Linked DNA regions of Homo sapiens. The protein of the gene in region 1 purifies or fractionates together with the protein of each later gene. This does not show direct contact. Each region holds a gene or a part of one and is shown on either strand. Other genes may lie near its edges.

The links.
Region 2: the proteins of NOCT (region 1) and NME6 purify together in Homo sapiens (affinity purification with mass spectrometry; one large-scale study listed by BioGRID and IntAct). This does not show direct contact.

Annotation. Positions count from the first base shown.
Region 1 is NC_000004.12:139,022,031-139,025,848, forward strand, and holds part of NOCT (nocturnin), read left to right. Parts: intron 1-3,818. UniProt on the Homo sapiens protein: Phosphatase which catalyzes the conversion of NADP(+) to NAD(+) and of NADPH to NADH. Shows a small preference for NADPH over NADP(+). Represses translation and promotes degradation of target mRNA molecules.
Region 2 is NC_000003.12:48,291,817-48,295,410, reverse strand, and holds the end of NME6 (nucleoside diphosphate kinase 6), read left to right. Parts: intron 1-175; coding exon 176-336; intron 337-607; coding exon 608-774; 3' UTR 775-3,094; downstream 3,095-3,594. UniProt on the Homo sapiens protein: Major role in the synthesis of nucleoside triphosphates other than ATP. The ATP gamma phosphate is transferred to the NDP beta phosphate via a ping-pong mechanism, using a phosphorylated active-site intermediate. Inhibitor of p53-induced apoptosis.

The DNA.
Region 1 (3,818 bases):
TTACAGGTGTGAGCCACCACGCCCGGCCACTAATTAGAGTTTATAGGGCTTTGATAGCCACTTAAGTGGTGGTTATACTTCAGTAGATAATTAGAAATTTGAAGGACAGTGTGCCTGGGCGTTTAGCCTCATAGTAAACCTGTTTGGACTTCCACGGAAAGCAGCTAAGATACTTTTTATTTATTGTTATTCTTAGAATGGGAGAAAATCAGCCTTCCCACGGAGGGAGTGAGACCTCAAGTGAAAACCTTAGCTGTCCTCTGTATCTATGTGGCCTCAAAGCAACACTTGAATCATATATTAATACTTAGCAAGAATTCAGTGTCAGGTATGTGGGCAACAGTGCCCAGGGGAAAGAAGGCTAAACAAAATTGGTACCATCCAATTTGAATGTCCTTATAACAATTTTTTTCTCCTTCCAGTATATAAAAAAATGCGTGGGTCCCATTCAGATCTTCTGGATTTTAATATCTCCAAGTGGGGCCTGAGCATCTGCTGATTCTGACATAGGCTCCGGGTAGACAACAGCCACATATTGACAACACAGGCGGACACCTGTGAGGAGGCTCGTTTTACTAAATGCTTAGAAGCCTATTCTAAGTCTCTCAGTGATGTGATTCTCCTGTCCAAAAGTTAGAGACCACTGTTGGATTGTGGAGAGTTGTGCAGAAAGGAAAATATTTATTTTATTTATTGTAGAGACAGGGTCTCACTGTGTTGCCCAGGCTGCTCTTGAGCTCTTGGCAAGTCCATGAAAATAAGTGCTTAGAAGTTACGATGCTGCCCGGGTACCGTGGCTCATGCCTGTAATCCCAGCACTTTGGGAGGCCAAGGAGGTGGGGGGAATCACTTGAGGTTAGGAGTTCGAGACCAGCCTGGGCAGCATGGCAAAAACCCCATCTTTATGAAAAATGTAAAAATTAGCCGGGTGTTGGTGGTGTGTGCCTGTAATCCCAGCTATTCGGGAGGCTGAGGCAGGAGAATTGCTTGAACCAGGGAGGTGGAGGTTGCAGCTAGCTGAGATCGTACCACTGTACTACAGCCTGGGCAACACAGCAAGACTCCATCTCAAAAAAAAAAAAGAAGTTATGATGCATCCAAAGTGACAATAAGAATTGTTCCGGAAGGATATCTGGGAAATTCCTTGGTCTTGATGCATCCTTTCTAGCTGTCTTCCTTTCCCTTTTCTATCTTTCCTCCAACTCTGAGGTTCCAGTACTTAAACAGCTCTGTTTGCCGATCTGCAAATATGCTTGTGACTGCAAATATCTTGTCTAGTACAGGGTGCAAAGTAAGTTACACTGCAGATTCTAATAATACCTGGGATATAATACTTTTCTATTTCCTCTTGTGTGTTTTGCTTTTATGGATGCTAATTATCATTGAAGGTCTGCTGAAGGAAAATGTTTATCTTTCAAATCTTGTAGGTCAAATAGACTCTCTGAGACTTAGTTCTAGAATTAGTTTAATATTTTATTTTTTTGAGATGGAGTCTTGCTCTGTTCCTCAAGCTGGAGTACGATGGCGCGATGTCAGCTCACTGCAACCTCCGTCTCCCGGGTTCAAGCGATTCTCCTGCCTCAGCCTCCCGAGTAGCTGGGGATTACAGGCCCCTGCCACCATGCCCTGCTAATTTTTTGTATTTTTAGTAGAGACGGGGTTTTGCCATGTTGGTCAGGCTGTTCTCGAACTCCTGACCTCAGGTGATACACCCGCCTCGGCCTCTCAAAGTGCTGGGATTACAGGCACCATGCCCGGCCTTGCCTCTGAACTTTTAAAGACCATTGTGAGTATTGATTATCTGTAGAAGCTTACAAGATTTCCTTATCTTTGGTATTCAAAAGATCCATCAGGTTGAATGTCTCAGCATCTGATGCGCCCATCCAATCTAAAGACATGCCTTAGCACATTAAAAGTTTGTATCGGTTGTCTACTGTATTGTCTCTTGTTCTCATGTTCTTGAACTCCTGTTAGATTGTTGGCCATATGGATCTATCCTCCGTGTCTATTCATCCTTTTTTTTTTTTTTTTTTTTTAAATTATTTTAGAGACAGAGTCTCCACTTTGTCACCCAGGCTGGAGTGCACTGGTGTGATCATAGCTCACTGTAACCTCCAACTCCTGGGCTGAAGTGATCCTCCCACTTCAGCCTCTGAAGTAGCTGGGACTATAGGTGTGCTCCACCATGCCTACCTACTTTTATTTTTTTGTAGAGACACGGGTCTCAGCTCAGACTGGTCTCAAACTCCTGGGCTCAAGCAGTCCATCTGCTTCTGCCTCCCAAAGTACTGGATTACAAGCATGAGGCACCTAGCCAGGCCTCCATTCATATTTTAGTGTTTTTATCTCTTCTCTGTTGCATGAGATTTTCTGAAAATTTTTGTTCTGCAGTCATTTTAAATTCCTAGACATTTCTAGTTGTTTAATTGCTCCTTTTTTCATAGAAACCTGTTTTGTGTCTATAATGTCTCTCGTACTTTAAATATATCAAGATGTGTGTGTGCCTGTTTCTCCTTTAGGCCTCTTTCCTGGAGAGGAAGGGAGTTTTGCATGTTGTTTTATTTGTTTGTTTGTTTTTTGAGATGGGGTCTCGCTCTGTCACTCAGGCTGGAGTGCTGTGGCGTGATCTCAGCTCACTGCAGCCTCCATCAACCTGGTTCAAGCACTCCTCCCACCTCAGCCTCCCAAGTAGCTGGGACCACAGGCATGCACCATCATGCCTGGCCCAGTAATACAACAGTTACTGTATTTTTAGTAGAGACAGGTTTTCCCCGTGTTGGCCAGGCTGGTCCCAAACTGCTGAGCTCAAGTGATCGGCCCACCCCGGCATCCCAGAATACTGGCATTACAGGTGTGAGCCACCGCGCCCAGCCAGTTTTGCATGTTCTGAGTGGGAAGGTAATCTGGAGAACGGGCAGCCAGGCTTCCTTGTTGAATGCGTGAGAGGGAGCAGGCTGGTAACTACCGCCTTTGTCAAAGAAAGGAGGGTTTCCTTCTATATTCTTCAGTCCAACCCCTTCCCCGCTTTTTAAAACCATCCTTGAGTTTCAGAGTTAGCTCCTGATCTGGTCTGCTTCTCTTTCAGGTCCATTCACCTTTGCAAGCCATTCTAAGGCTATCACCCATTTTCTTTGGGGTATTCTTTGGTTCTATGGAGCAACCAAAAGCCACCCTTCCCGGCTTTGTCTGTGAGAGAGGGGACACATGTAACTAGTGCCACCGTTCACTTTCATTCTTGAACGAATTGCCCTAACAGTTACCCCCTCAGCTTCTCCTGCCCTTTCTATTTCTTGATTCAGCTTGGAGTTTCTTCAAGGTGCTCTTGGGAAAACCACATTTACCTTTGGTAACTTGTACTGCCCTTTCCTTCTGGTTTCTCTGTTAATTCAAACTTGTTTCTGTCTTCTTGGAATTCCTCCAAATATTTGCTCCATTGATGTCATGCATCCCTTCTTGTTTTCCAATGTTATTGATGCATTCTTTAAAAAATTTTAAAGAGGCCAGGCGCGGTGGCTCACGCCTGTAATCCCAGCACTTTGGGAGGCCAAGGCGGGCAGATTGGGAGTTCCAGACCAACCTGGCCAGCATAGTGAAACCCTGTCTCTACTAAAAATACAAAAATTAGCCATGCGTGGTGGCGGGTGCCTGTAATCCCATCAGCGACTCAGAAAGCTGAGGGAGGAGAATTGCTTGAACCTGGGAGGCAGAGGTTTCAGTGAGCCGAGATGGCGCCATTGCACTCCAGACTAGGCAACAGAGCGAGACTCCGTCTCAAAAAAAAAAAAAAAATTTAAATATAGGCACTTTATTTCTTCAAG
Region 2 (3,594 bases), on another chromosome or scaffold:
CTTGATGTACACCAGCAGGGGCCCTGCATCACCTATTTGAAGCAGCATTGGTACTCAGCTGGAAAGGCAGGAAAACTCTCAGAACGTAGAGTGTGTTTTTATTCAGGCCCTGCTCACAGCACACCCTCCTAGTCTAGATGGCCAGGTTCTTTACATGTGCTTGTTTTGTTCACAGCGGGCCAATCCGAGCCTACATCCTTGCCCACAAGGATGCCATCCAGCTCTGGAGGACGCTCATGGGACCCACCAGAGTGTTCCGAGCACGCCATGTGGCCCCAGATTCTATCCGTGGGAGTTTCGGCCTCACTGACACCCGCAACACCACCCATGGTTCGGGTGAGTCCCCTGTCCATAGCCATAGGATATTTTGGGGTTAGCGGGCAGGCTGTGTGGTAGAGTTGACAGCCAGGTCCCTCCAGTGAGCTTTCTTCCATTTGTGTTTCTGGTCTTTGTAGCCATGTTGGCAGATGTGGCCTGTGGACTTTCTTTACATGCCCCAGGACTGAAGGGGCAGGCAGAGTAGAGGCTCAGGATTCTGAACCTGATTATGACTGCCTCTTGCTTCTACCATGTGAGAACCCCTTCTCTGTCTTATCTCCCCTTACAGACTCTGTGGTTTCAGCCAGCAGAGAGATTGCAGCCTTCTTCCCTGACTTCAGTGAACAGCGCTGGTATGAGGAGGAAGAGCCCCAGTTGCGCTGTGGCCCTGTGTGCTATAGCCCAGAGGGAGGTGTCCACTATGTAGCTGGAACAGGAGGCCTAGGACCAGCCTGATGCAGGTCTATGAAGACCAGTGGTAGTGCCCAGACTTCTCCTAGACATCTAGTCTAAAACATTCTCCTAGGACCAGGGAAGCCTGGCTTACAGTGCCATTTCTGCTGGGCACCACCACCTGCCTGAGGGCCTAGCTCACCACAGCACATCCTCCAGGATCTAGCCTTCTATCTACCTCTTCTCTGGAATGTTTATGGTGGTTCAGAAGAATGATGACTCCTCTTTGCTGAGAACTGTTCATCCTTCTTCAAGAAGAAGCTTGCCAGGCCGGGCACGGTGGCTCACGCCTATAATCCCAGCACTTTGGGAGGCCGAGGCAGGCGGATCACAAGGTCAGGAATTCGAGACCAGCCTGACCAACATGGTGAAACCCCATCTCTACTAAAAATACAACAATTAGCCAGGCATGGTGGTGCATGCCTGTAATCCCAGCTACTCAGAGGCTGAGGCAGGAGAATTGCTTGAACCTGGGAGGCAGAGGGTGCAGTGAGCCGAGATCGTGCCATTGCACTCCAGCCTGGGCGACATTCTGTCTCAAAAAAAAAAAAAAAGAAGCTTGTCTAATTGACTTGCCTAAAAAATGCAGTGACTCCAAACAACATTTGACCTGTCTTCCTCAATAAAAGTCAGTGTTCTCCTGAATCCTTTATGCTGCCACATTTAGGGGAAACTTTTCAGGCTTCATCATTCTGACTTCTCAGCAGCATTCAGTTATTGCTTCATTCTCCAGAAACACTCTCTTCTCTTGGATTTTCTGATCCCACACCCTTGGTTTTCTCCTTCTGTGTGTTTTTCTTCATCTCCTTTATCAGCTTATGCAAACATTTATTTTCATAAATTCTCTATTCAAGACATACTGAAAAATGCAAAGATGGTTAAGACATGATTGGGTCCTCAAGTTGCTAATTATGAATTTGGGTGGTCAGCCAGCTATAACGTGGCAGAGATGGAGAAGTGCCCTAACAGAGGTATAAAGTCCTGTGGGAGAACAGAGGAAAGAAGGTTTCCTTTGGCTGGGTGAGGAGGTGAAGGAGATAGGGTGGAAAGTCTTTTATAAAAGATATAGCTGGCTTTGGAACTAAGCCTGAAGGTCAAATAGGGTATCCATAGCAGGGGTCTGGGGCACTAGACAGTCTGTTCATTTTCAGGAATATATGGGTCAGTTTTGTATGTGTGACCTAAGAAACCTGTGACACTTCTTACAGGTCTTGACTTTTCTTTCTCAGTACATGTGTATTTCTCTTTTTGGTGGCCTTGAAACCTTTGAGTTGAAAATTGCCTTCACCATCTGCCACTTTCACTAATGGTAGACCAGGAAATTTGGACCCACTGAACATAGAGAACAACTAGAAAAGCTGTGCAAAATATAAACAGCATCTATCTGAAAGCATCAGCTGGCAATATAGAACCAAAATTCAGGACACGAAGGAAACTCAAGAGAAGTGAGCCTGGGACTTAGAGCTACTTTTCCCATAAGGGCACCTGCTGATTCTGGAAGAGGCAGCTAAGAAGCTGAGTAGAACTTTCAACAACTTCTTGTGTTAGGGAGCCAGCTTCATGAATGCTGGCAGAAAACACAGGATTACTTGGGCAGAGACTACTGCTCAGGGCACAGCAGGCAGTGTGTTAGCCTTGGTCTCCCTTGCCCTCCAAGTCCCACAGGGCAATACTGGCAGGCCCAGGAAAGTGTTACACACTGCAGGTTTGCATGACGGCTAAGGAACCACAATCTTAGGGAGATACTATCTCTGTCTTCTAAGGCCATTTGCTGTACAAAAATCCTTGAAATACCTGGGCACAGTGGCACACCTATAATCCTAGCACTTTGGGAGGCTGAGGCAGGCGGATCACCTGAGGTTGGGAGTTCCAGACCAGCCTGACCAACATGGAGAAATCCCGTCTCTACTAAAAATACAAAAATTAGCCAAGCGTGGTGGCGCGAGCCTGTAATCCAGCTACTCGGGAGGCTGAGGCAGGAGAATCGCTTGAACCCAGGAGGCGGAGGTTGTGGTGAGCCAAGATCACGCCGTTGCACTCCAGCCTGGGCAACAAGAGTGAAACTCCATCTCAAGAAAAAAAAAATCCTTGAAATAGTCTGGAACAAAATCTGTCAACATCTCAGCCCACAAAGTATCAACAAAATTGATATTTTGTTGCATTTAAAAAATTTAAATGGTGGTCAAAGCGTACAAAATCTGACAATTAAGACACCCACAAGAGACACAGAATTATCTCCCAATAAAATTGTCTCATAAAAACCTGGCTCCCACAAATATGGAAAGGGAGAAAACTAGAATAAACCCTGTGGTGTCGAATTGGAGATATCAGTGTGAACTCGTGTATTTCAGTCTATAGAGATAGATGTAAATATGTTTTTGTATGTATAGTCCTTTGCACTGATGTGAGAGCAATGACACTCCAATAGTAATGACCACACCCAGCACCCAGGTCCACCAAAAGACAAAGTGCTATGGACTGAATTATATCCCCCTAAAATTCATATGTTGAAGCCCTAACCCCCAATGTGATGATATTTGGAAATGGGACATTTGGGAGATAATTAAGTTTAGATGGCCAGGTATGGTGGCTCACGCCTGTAATCCCAGCACTTTGGGAGGCCAAGGCGGGCGGATCACAAGGTCAGGAGATCGAGACCATCCTGGCTAACACGGTGAAACCCCGTCTCTTCTAAAAATACAAAAATTAGCTGGGTGTGGTGGCACGCACCTGTAGTCCCAGCTACTTGGGAGGCTGAGGCAGAAGAATTGCTTGAACCCAGGAGGTAGAGTTTGCAGTGAGCCAAGGTAGTGCTACTGCACT